Linked DNA regions of Homo sapiens. The protein of the gene in region 3 purifies or fractionates together with the protein of the main gene of each other region. This does not show direct contact. Each region holds a gene or a part of one and is shown on either strand. Other genes may lie near its edges. The genes, in order: ANKRD26, EPB41 and WDR3.

Evidence for each region.
Region 1: the proteins of WDR3 (region 3) and ANKRD26 purify together in Homo sapiens (affinity purification with mass spectrometry; one large-scale study listed by BioGRID and IntAct). This does not show direct contact.
Region 2: the proteins of WDR3 (region 3) and EPB41 purify together in Homo sapiens (affinity purification with mass spectrometry; one large-scale study listed by BioGRID and IntAct). This does not show direct contact.

The regions. Positions count from the first base shown.
Region 1 is NC_000010.11:27,013,387-27,017,043, reverse strand, and holds part of ANKRD26 (ankyrin repeat domain-containing protein 26), read left to right. Parts: intron 1-2,332; coding exon 2,333-2,550; intron 2,551-3,657. UniProt on the Homo sapiens protein: Acts as a regulator of adipogenesis. Involved in the regulation of the feeding behavior.
Region 2 is NC_000001.11:29,033,017-29,036,673, forward strand, and holds part of EPB41 (protein 4.1), read left to right. Parts: intron 1-76; coding exon 77-229; intron 230-2,809; coding exon 2,810-2,907; intron 2,908-3,657. UniProt on the Homo sapiens protein: Protein 4.1 is a major structural element of the erythrocyte membrane skeleton. It plays a key role in regulating membrane physical properties of mechanical stability and deformability by stabilizing spectrin-actin interaction. Recruits DLG1 to membranes.
Region 3 is NC_000001.11:117,960,627-117,963,935, reverse strand, and holds part of WDR3 (WD repeat-containing protein 3), read right to left. Parts: 3' UTR 138-3,309; coding exon of another isoform or gene 1-137. Other genes in the region: SPAG17 (sperm-associated antigen 17), read left to right, coding at 1-137. UniProt on the Homo sapiens protein: Part of the small subunit (SSU) processome, first precursor of the small eukaryotic ribosomal subunit.

The DNA.
Region 1 (3,657 bases), on a different chromosome or scaffold from region 3:
TTTTTAATTCTTATTTTTGGTAGAAACAGAGTCTTGCTTTGTTGCCCAGGCTGGTCTCGAACTCTTGGCTTCAAGTGATCCTCCTGCTTAGGTCTCCCAAAGTGCTGAGATTACAGGCATGAGCCACCAAACCTGGCTGATAAATATTTTAAACTTCAGCTTTTTTTTCACATATTTAAAATTACTCTCTGAATCACTAACTCAAAAGTAAAGGAAAAAAATACACAATAATTACCCAGGTTTTATATAAATTAAATTTTATTAAGGGATAATTTACAAATAATTAAACACAACCATTTTAACAGTTTGACCCAAGTATATACTTGCTTAACCACCCTCTCAACAGAGAACATTTCCAGAAAGTTCTCTCTTGCCCTTTTGCAGTTAATTCCCCCTACTTCATCCCAGGAAACCACTGGGACTTTAACACAACTTGTGTTGTTTTTGCCTTAAAAAAAAAAAAACAAAGCTGGGCACGGTGGCTCATGCCTGTAATCCCAGCACTTTGGGAAGCCGAGGTGGACGGATCACGAGGTCAGGAGTTCCAGACCAGCCTGGCCAACATAGTGAAAACCCATATCTACTAAAAAATTTAAAAAAATAATCAGCCAGGCGTGGTGGCACATGCCTGTAGTCCCAGTTACTCGGGAGACTGAGGCAGGAGAACTGCTTGAATCTGGGAGGCGGAGGTTGCAGTGAGGCAAGATGGTGAGAGCTAGACTCCGTCTCAAATACAAAACAAAACAAACAAATTAGGCTGGGCATGGTAGCTCACACCTGTAATCCTAGCACTTTGAGGGCTGAGGCGGGAGGACCACTTGAGCCCAGGAGTTCAAGACCAACCTAGGCAACAAAGTGAGACCCCATCTCTACAAAAATTTAAAAAAGTAATTAGCCAGGCATGGTGGTGCATGGCTGTAGTCCCAGGTACTTGGGAGGCTGAGGTGAGAGGATCATGTAAGCCCAGGAGTTTTCAAGGCTGCGGTGAGCTATGATTGTGCCACTGAACTGAAGCATGGGCGACAGACTGAGACCCTGTCTCTAAAATAAACAAAGCCAAAGGAATGTCTTTCCTCTCTTACCCACATGGGTATATGAGTGTGTGAGTGTGTGTGTGTCTGAGTGAGTGATAAAAATCTACTTAATAACATGAGTTTGTGTGTCTATGAGTGATTAAAACTCAATAATTTAACAAATTTGTTTTAGTTGGGATAAAGAGCGATTGAGAACTGCGTGGGACCCCTGTGCTTATGAGAGAGGATGGAGGGTGCAAACTGGTGGAAAGGATGTGAAAATTAACAGAGAAATTTCAACTGGGCCACTTGAAAATATGTAGCCGTTGTGAGAGTAGAAAGTCTTCACTCCTCATTCTCAGCTCTTTCCCTTCCCTCAGGCTAGTGAGAGATAGGAGTCTTGGAACACAATCTACAAGGCCAAGGTGGTAACAATCCATGATAACACAGATTTCTTCACATGGTATTTATGATAGTCTTACAAAGCTCTGCATGTTAGCTCTTAGAGACATGGAATGAGAATAGGAAGAAATCTTAGTGATAAGCCAGTGTAGTTTCCCATTTTACAGATGAAGAGACCTAGGGAAAGGTTAAACAGCAGGGCCCAAGCCATAGAGCTAGTCAGGCTCAGGATCACACTCCACATTCCTTTACTTGTAGTCCAGGTGATTCCATAACCTTATGCTCCAGCAGGTAGAATTACTGTAAGAGATCCAACACCTTGGGCTTTTTTCTCAGCATGTATTGATGCGCACAGCATTTATCCCTAAGAAGCTCTAAGTTCCTGTATCTTACATACAGATGATTGCTTTAATTTACTTTGCCAGGTGTATTCATAAAATGGAATATCACATCAAAATTTTTAAGCATATTCAAGTCTTCCCCATGAATATATTTTAACACAAAAATAATTTTTATAAGATTTTTCATTCGAAAATATCTCCACATTTGTAGTCATTTTCTTTCTTAGGTTTTCCTTATGTTACCAATTATAATTTTTTATTTTCTATATGACATTTCCCCCCATCGTTAGACATCTGGGTTGCCAGTCAGCCTTTATTGTTTTGATTACTTCATCAAGGATGAAAATGCTTCTCTAGTAGAAACTCACTTTCATTTCTTTGGAAGTATTTGGATTCCCTTTTCAATTAGAACCCTGGGATGTCCTCTTATCTCTTTGACCAATGCCTGCTGGCACAGAGATCTTTCTCTTTTTGGAGTTTGGGTTAAAAACAAAACAGCCCTTAGACACCGAGTAGGTGACCATGGTCTTACTCAGGTTATATATTTTTAAAACATATGCTTTTAATTTGTTTTAGGCACAAGCAGCATCTCAAGAAAACTTAGAGCAGTTTAGAGAGAATAATTTTGCTTCAATGAAAAGTCAGATGGAACTCAGAATTAAAGATCTGGAATCTGAACTCTCCAAAATAAAAACTTCTCAAGAAGACTTTAATAAAACCGAACTGGAAAAATATAAGCAACTCTATCTAGAAGAATTAAAAGTTAGAAAATCTTTGTCAAGTAAACTAACCAAGTAAGTCAAAATATAGAATCATAGGAAATAAATTAAGCTCATTAATTTGCCTTGAAAGCATAATTCTTAGGTTCATGAGATTAATGGGAAGTGAAAGCTAAATAGGTAATATAATTTTGGAAAATGTTAGTAAATTAACTTACCTTTAAAATGTGAGTCCAGGACAGTTTATGTCTTTCCTCTGTTTTTTTTTTTTTAATTTTATATGGCTTTTCCGTTAATATTCTTAGGTAGTTAACTGGATCTATGTCTTTCAGCTATGTGCTTTTAAAACTTTGTAATTTAGACATTGATATTGTCATCAGATTGCTTATCAGCATTGCCATAAATATAATTATTAATGAGTTGGGCTGTTTTTTGGAAAATTACAACTTAAACCAGAAGGGTCAAGTATCACTACTACTCTGCACATTCTGGCACTCCATAAATGAACTTTCCTTGATTGTGATATCTGGTATTATCACTACAGGGTGCCATGAGACAAACTACCCTGTATAGTTTTTCTACTACTTAAAGGCATGCTAGTGAAATAGGGAATGATTAACGTAGGGATGAAGGGAAGTATATTTTATAAAGTGGTTAAAAATAACACCTTGGTCAGCCTGAGGGAGTGTGTGGAAAACAGGTCAGGCCCCACCTCTGATGCCTTGGGGACAATGTTAGGAGCTAACTGCCTTTGAGACTCTTTAGTTCTTTTTGATCACCAACTCAGCTATCTTCTTTTCCCCTACAATTTTTTGCTCTGAATTATTCCTTGGGGCCAGATGCCTAATATTTTTCCAGATAATGGGTGAAATAAATGTAAAAGGGTGGTGAAAGCAAATGCTTGCACATGTCTTGAGGAATTTTTTAATCTCTAAACTGGTTTACTAAATACAAGTATTTTTAGCTGGGCTTTTTCCTTTGTTATTAGTTTTATTAATTGTATGTATCAAAACATGATGTTTTTGATATATTTGTACATGGTGAAATGGTTATTATAGTCAAGCAAATTAACATATTTATCATGTCACATATTTACCCTTTAAAGACAAGTATTTTTAATGGCATCCTCAGGAATCTTACCAGTGGAGCATTCCAGAAGGCAGCAGGTGTTACCTGTGAAGT
Region 2 (3,657 bases), about 89 Mb from region 3:
CAGATTATCTAGTAATAGTCAACAGTGTATTGAGTACTTTGCTCCAGACTGAAATCCTAACATTTTTCTTTTTCAGGACTTGGAAGGAGTAGATATCATCCTAGGTGTCTGCTCTAGTGGCCTTCTGGTTTACAAAGATAAGCTGAGAATTAACCGCTTCCCTTGGCCCAAAGTGCTGAAGATTTCTTATAAACGTAGTAGCTTTTTCATCAAGATTCGGCCTGGAGAGGTACAGAATTTATATTTCCTTCCTCCCAAACCAGACACAGTCTGTATCTGAAATATCTACATTTCCATTTTCCTTATTAAGTCATCTGAGAAGTCTCTCTATAGTTAACTATTGAAGGGCTGATAATTCCGTTTTCTAAGTTGATCAGTCCTGTGATGCTACTTCTTTTCCTTACTACTGGTCTTCTGGACATTTCACTTTTTGTAAGTAAATATACCATTGCAAAAAGTTAAACTTGGACTGATACATTTGTTCCTTGTTTACGCCAAGCAAAAACTTAATGGAAAAATATTTTTAAATTGAGTAGCATGAGATTTTAAAATTATTTATAGGGATAAATTACTCATGTTTGGCATCACCAATCCTTTATCTCATATAATTAAAATTTATTTGTATGCATAGCTTCTCGTGGTTACTGAGAGTGAGTTCTAGGGCCAAGTTCTAGATTTTTAATAAGAGTTGGATGTTCAACTTTGTACCAGTTAATTCATTTATTAGTTGGTTTGGGGATATACTAATGCTGGCCAAATTTAACTTTTGTATTGAAGAGCCATTATGGAATAGCATAAAATTGTTTAAGTAGGAATTAAAGTTTTTTAAAAAGTTCTGACTTCTTTTCTGCCACATACTAAGCAAAAGACCTGGACAAATCTAAGGCTCAGCTTCCTTGTCATTTGGGCAGGATAATACCTTCTCCATCATAGTTATTTGAAGATCAAATGAGATGACAGCTGTGTAAGTTCTATATAGGAAATGATACTAACCTAAGGTGGCTTTTGTGTGTATATATCACCATCTGCTGGTGAATAATGGCTAATTATTTGTGCCTGCAAATTCTGGATGTGGAGCCTTAAAAATCTTGGATAGGGATTACCATAGAAGCATTTATTTTGTACCATAATTATTTTACCTATGCCTAGCACAGAGCAGTCAGTGTCTTCCCTTAAAATTTCAAATTCAAGAGTTATTCAATCAACAAATATTTATTGAGAGCTTTCCTGTGTTGGACACTATTCTAGGGACTAGGAATATAACAGCAAATTAGAATCTCATCCCTCACACACGTTAATATGAAAATGGGAAATCCTTAGCTTCTAAAAATGTAGAATTCTTATTTAGAAGGCAATCAGGAACAACAGGATTTTGAGAAAAAGTATTGTGGCAGCAGTAGATGATTTAGCAGTGGCATGGTATGGTGAAGAGGGTAAAAATCTGGTTCTGTCATTTCATAGCTGTCAGTCTGAGCAAATAACTTCTCTGACCTCAGTTTCTTCATGTCTAAAAATATAGATGATATTATCTAATCATAGTGTTACTGGCAATAGTAGGCACTCAAAATAAATGTCAGTTTCCTTTCCATCTTATAAAATATGCTTAAAGTAGAAATAAAGAGGCAAGAGGTCAGCAGGACAGTGTTTCTAGTAACCCTGGGAGAATATGTTTTGCTTCAGTATAAGAGGAATCTAGATAAATTAATGATCAATCAAAGGAAAAAAGAAATATTTAATGATTCAAGAATCTGAGGAATAAGTTCAAGAGATCTATTGTACAACATGGTGACTATCATTAATAACAATGTATTGTTCTCTTGAAAAATTGCTAAGAGACTAGATTTTAAGTTTTCTCACCACAAAAAAATAATAAGTGTGTCAGGTAATACATATGTTAATCAGCTCAATTTAGCCATTTCACAATGTATACGTGTTTCTTGGGTTTGTTTGTTTGTTGTTTTTTTTTTTTTTTTTTTTTTTTGGAAGAAGAAGTCTCGCTTTGTCACCCAGGCTGGAGTGCAGTGGCGCCATCTCAGCTCACCGCAACCTCTACCTCTCAGGTTCAAGTGATTCTCCTACCTCAGCCTCCTGAGTAGCTGGAATTACAGGCGCGTGCCACCATGCCCGGCTAATTTTTTTTGTATTTTTAGTAGAAATGAGGTTTCACCATGTTGGTCAGGCTGGTCTTGAACTCCTGACCTTGTGATCTGCCCACCTCGGCCTCCCAAAGTGCTGGGATTACAGGCGTAAGCCACCGTGCCTGGCAGGTATACATATTTCAAAACAACATGTTGTAGATGATAAGTATGTACAATTTTTATTTGTCAATTTAAAAAATTGATTTAAAAATCTGGCTTGAACTAAAATCTTTAGCTCCTATTACTAATTTCTATTGCATAATAATATTGATTGATTGGAGGACTTGGTCAATATCCCATTCCCTGTTCATTGAACAGTGTCCCAAATGCAGATAGTGACTAAGGAAAAGCAGTGTCTGGACAATCAAGAGGTGACTTAATTGTGTCTCAGAAAAATGTATAATGAATGTGTGTGTGTTTTCTGGAAAAAAAAAAAAAAGCTTAAATTATATGAGATGCATTCCCTGGCTTTCTTGCTTTGGAAAAAGCCACCCTCAGTGAGTGAATTTCTTTCAGTAAGTAGGAAAAAATTCCAAATGACATTTTATGTCCTTAAATTGGTAACAATGGCCTCTTCTGTGGCACCATATTTCTCTGGTACTGTATCACTGTAATCTGGTACTGTATCACATGTAATACTTCATGTCCCATGTTTATTTGTGTTTTTGTAGCAAGAGCAGTATGAAAGTACCATCGGATTCAAACTTCCCAGTTACCGAGCAGCTAAGAAATTATGGAAAGTCTGTGTAGAACATCACACGTTTTTCAGGTATTATTCTCACTTAAGTATTTTTCAAGGATAAATTATTTATAACGTTTCTATTTTAAGCCTGCTATTAAAATTCCTTTCATTGTATGACTGGCACTCTTTTATTTAGCTCAGGTGAGATCATCTTAAGCAAGACAAAATGAATCCATTTCTCTCCCTTTGGGTTGAAAAGTATGCCTCAACATTTCCAAAGCACCTGTCTGTGTATGGTAGAAGGAAGAGAGGAGTAAGGAATGGGAACCTGTATTTACCAGGGACTCTGGGATTGCATTAATTGTAGCTAAAGTCAGTCCGATTAAGGGGAGTTACCCTCACTTACCTCCACGTGTGATTTTTTTTTTTTTTTTTTTTTTGAGACGGAGTTTCGCTCTTGTTGCCCAGGCTGGAGTGCCGTGGCGCGATCTCGGCTCACTGCAACCTCCGCCTCCCGGGTTCAAGTGATTCTCCTGCCTCAGCCTCCTAAGTAGCTGGGATTACAGGCACCCGCCATCATGCCCAGCTAATTTTTTGTATTTTTAATAGAGACACGCTTTCACTATGTTGGTCAGGGTGGTCTCAAACTCCTGACCTCAGGTGATCCACTTGCCTTGGCCTCCCAATGTGCTGGGATTACAGGCATGAACCACTGTGCCCGGACGGAATTTTTATTTTTTTGTTTTTGCTAATTTTTTTTTCCACATGGAATTTCTCTAAGCAATGCTTGACTACTTTTTGTGGAGCTTTTATACTATAAGGTTAAAGATGTGAAGC
Region 3 (3,309 bases):
TTTTAACAAGCAGCAATTATGATAAACGACCAAAAGACTTTCCCCAGGGAAAAGAAAATCCAATGGTCCAGAGAACTTCTACAATTTATTCCTCCACACTTGGAGTCTTCATGTCTCGTAAAGTTTCTCCACATTAGGTACAGTAAGTAATAAATGGGAATTTGATTGTCAAGCATTCAAATTTGAGGTATTAGACCCCAGGTTTCTTCCCCTCTTCTTATAGTCAGAAACCTATAAGCCACCTGGCCTGAATGAATGAAAATATTTGTTTAGGCCGGGCCCGGTGGCTCACACCTGTAATCCCAGCACTTTGGGAGGCCGAGGTGGGTGGATCACAAGGTCAGGAGATCGAGACCATCCTGGCTAACTTGGTGAAACCCCGTCTCTACTAAACAATAGAAAAAATCAGCCAAGTGTGGTGGCGGGTGCCTGTAGTCCCAGCTACTCTGGAGGCTGAGGCAGGAGAATGGCGTGAACCCAGGAAGCGGAGCTTGCAGTGAGCCAAGATCGTGCCACTGCACTCCAGCCTGGGAGACAGAGCGAGACTCTGTCTCAAAAAAAAAAAAAAAGAAAATATTTGTTTAAATAACTATACTAGTTGCTTCTTTATATATATTATAAAATGTAATGCTCATGCAAGGTAGAATTCAGTGCTTTATACCCTAATCTTGGAAGACACATCCCATTATATTTACTGTATTCTGTTCACTAGAAGCCAGTCACTAGGTCCGACCCCATACTCAAGGGGAAGGGATACACAAGGGCAACACTGCCAGGCCCTATGTAAGAGTTGGGCTCAGTGACTGTTACACAATGTGTACTGTGTTCTAAAAACATACCAGGGCTGCTTGGATCCCAAAAACCTCAGAAATAAAGAGAAAGGACTTGAATATATGGTGATACTACCTTTAAGAACCTTAGCCCCATCTCAAACTTAGGAGCTTAAATTGTGAGGAATGGGGGTGGATTGCAGACAGTAACTGTAAGCCAATGTGGTTTCTTCATTAAGCTTCTGCTCACAACCTCCCTCTCTTTCTGAAGACTAATCTGGCCTGAAAAGGCTGCATTGAGCAGGCTCATCATTTACAGCTAAGTGAATAGAGTCCTATATACAGTCCTGTACCTACCAACAGATACCATTGCTTTCCTGGGCACTGTCCTAGATCTCTGCTGGAGATTTGCTAGATATCTTTAGAATGAGATATAATTTATGACATTTGCCATTGAGAAACAATTTAATACCAAATATACAAAGCACCTAGCTTCCAGCCAGTGAATTTCAAAATTTTTAAGCATATTTTCTCTAAGTGGATGGATATATACATTTTTAAAAATAAGCCTAAATGTTTTACTCCCAATACATCATTCAAGAGCCTTTTTTTTTTTTTTCAATGGAGTCTGGCTCTGTTGCCCAGACTGGAGTGCAGTGGCACAATCTCAGCTCACTGCAATCTCAAAAGGCTTTTCTTTATGGTACTACAGAATTTCTATAGGTAACTTACTTCACAATATGCAAGAGATATTAGTCATTAGATGGTTTTTATATTAAGGATTATATACAGCCAATGGCTGACTAAGGCAATGAATACTGACTTAATGACTAGAAATTTGCCTGGCTTAAAATTTACTTTATAATGCACCTATTGACCTTAAACTTTTAGAGTTAAAGAGTTTCAAGTATTTTGACCAAAAATTGTAACTTGGCTAGGTTCTGTACATGTCACTTTATCATAAAAGTTCTCCTTCTCTTCGATTAGTATAACACTTAGCAGACAGAAACATCTTTACATTCCCTAGCACTATCAGGCTTTTGAGTTATAAATGGTGGCAAAGCTACGGGAAAACAGCAACTTTTAACATAAGAGTAATTATTGATGATGTATACATCTCGAATGCCCTCCTGGAACTTGTTTTGGTTTGGAAACCATCAAAAATGTTACTAGAAAGTGACATTTATGTTCTGATGAGCAACTCTAAGAAGGATATTGAATCAACTTCTGTTCTCATAAAAAATTAAATTTTTTTTCAAGAATTAACTCCTCTCCCTGGTGGCAGGAATAGCTGCCTAAACAACACTGACTCCTTGGAAAGCACCTAGAATGCATTATCCTGCCTGCCTATTCTCTTGCCTTCATAGTTATGCCTTCAGAAACTCTATGCCAAAATTCACTTATTTATTCTGCCCAACAAATAACACCACTGCATCCCTTACTCACTTCAGTGATTGTGTTATGCTCAAGAACATTAAGACTTGTGGTTTGGGACACAAATCGGCAAGCCACAAGGACTGCATATCTGAGCCTAGAAGAAAATGGTGGCCCCACAACACAGTAACTTGGTTGCAATGACCAAATTCAGACAGAAACCATAGTTTTAAATCTTTGGGATTAACAACAACAAAAAAGATAAAAAGCAAAACTGTCTCAAGAAGATACAGAACATCTAAACAGGCCTGTAACAAGAAGTATGATTTAGTCATTTATAAACTTCCCCAAAAGAAAAGCCCAGACCCAGAGGTATCTGTCAATATCTTTTCCTAGAACATTCCCCAAATCCTTACCATGAAGATATACAGTAGACAATCCGTTGAACATGGGTTTTAACCACTTGGCTCCACTGTTATACAGATTTTTTTTTACTATTATTATTTTGGAGATGGAGTCTCACTGTGTTGCCCAGGCTGGAATGCTGGTGGCACTGTCTTGGCTAACTGCAATCTCCGCCTGCCGGGTTCAAGTGATTCTCCTGTCTCAGCCTCCTGAGTAGCTGGGATTACAAGCGCCTGCCACCACGCCCAGCTAGTTTTTTGTATTTTTAGTAGAGATGAGGTTTCACCATGTTGGCCAGGCTGGTCTGGAACTCCTGACCTTGTGATCCGCCTGCCTCGGCCTCCCACAGTGGTGGGATTACAGGCGTGAGCCACTGCACGCAGCCCAGATATTTTCAATAAATATATTGGAAAAATTTTTGGAGATCTGAAACAATGAGAAAAGTTTCAGATGAAAAAAATTAGGAAAAAAGTAGTTATATCATGAATGCACAAAATATATGTAGATACTAGACTATTTTATCATTTACTGCCATAAAATACACGCAAATCTATTATCAACATTAACACACACAAATACAGATCATACATGGTGCAATTCACAGTTTTGGGAGAAATGTAAAATAATGTAAAGATGCAGTATTAAATCATAGCTGCATAAAATGAACTGTAATACACAGTATGTTACTGAAATAATTTCACAGCCACCTCCTGTTGCTATGCAGTGAGCTCAAGTGTTGTGCGTATGCACTTAAAATGCT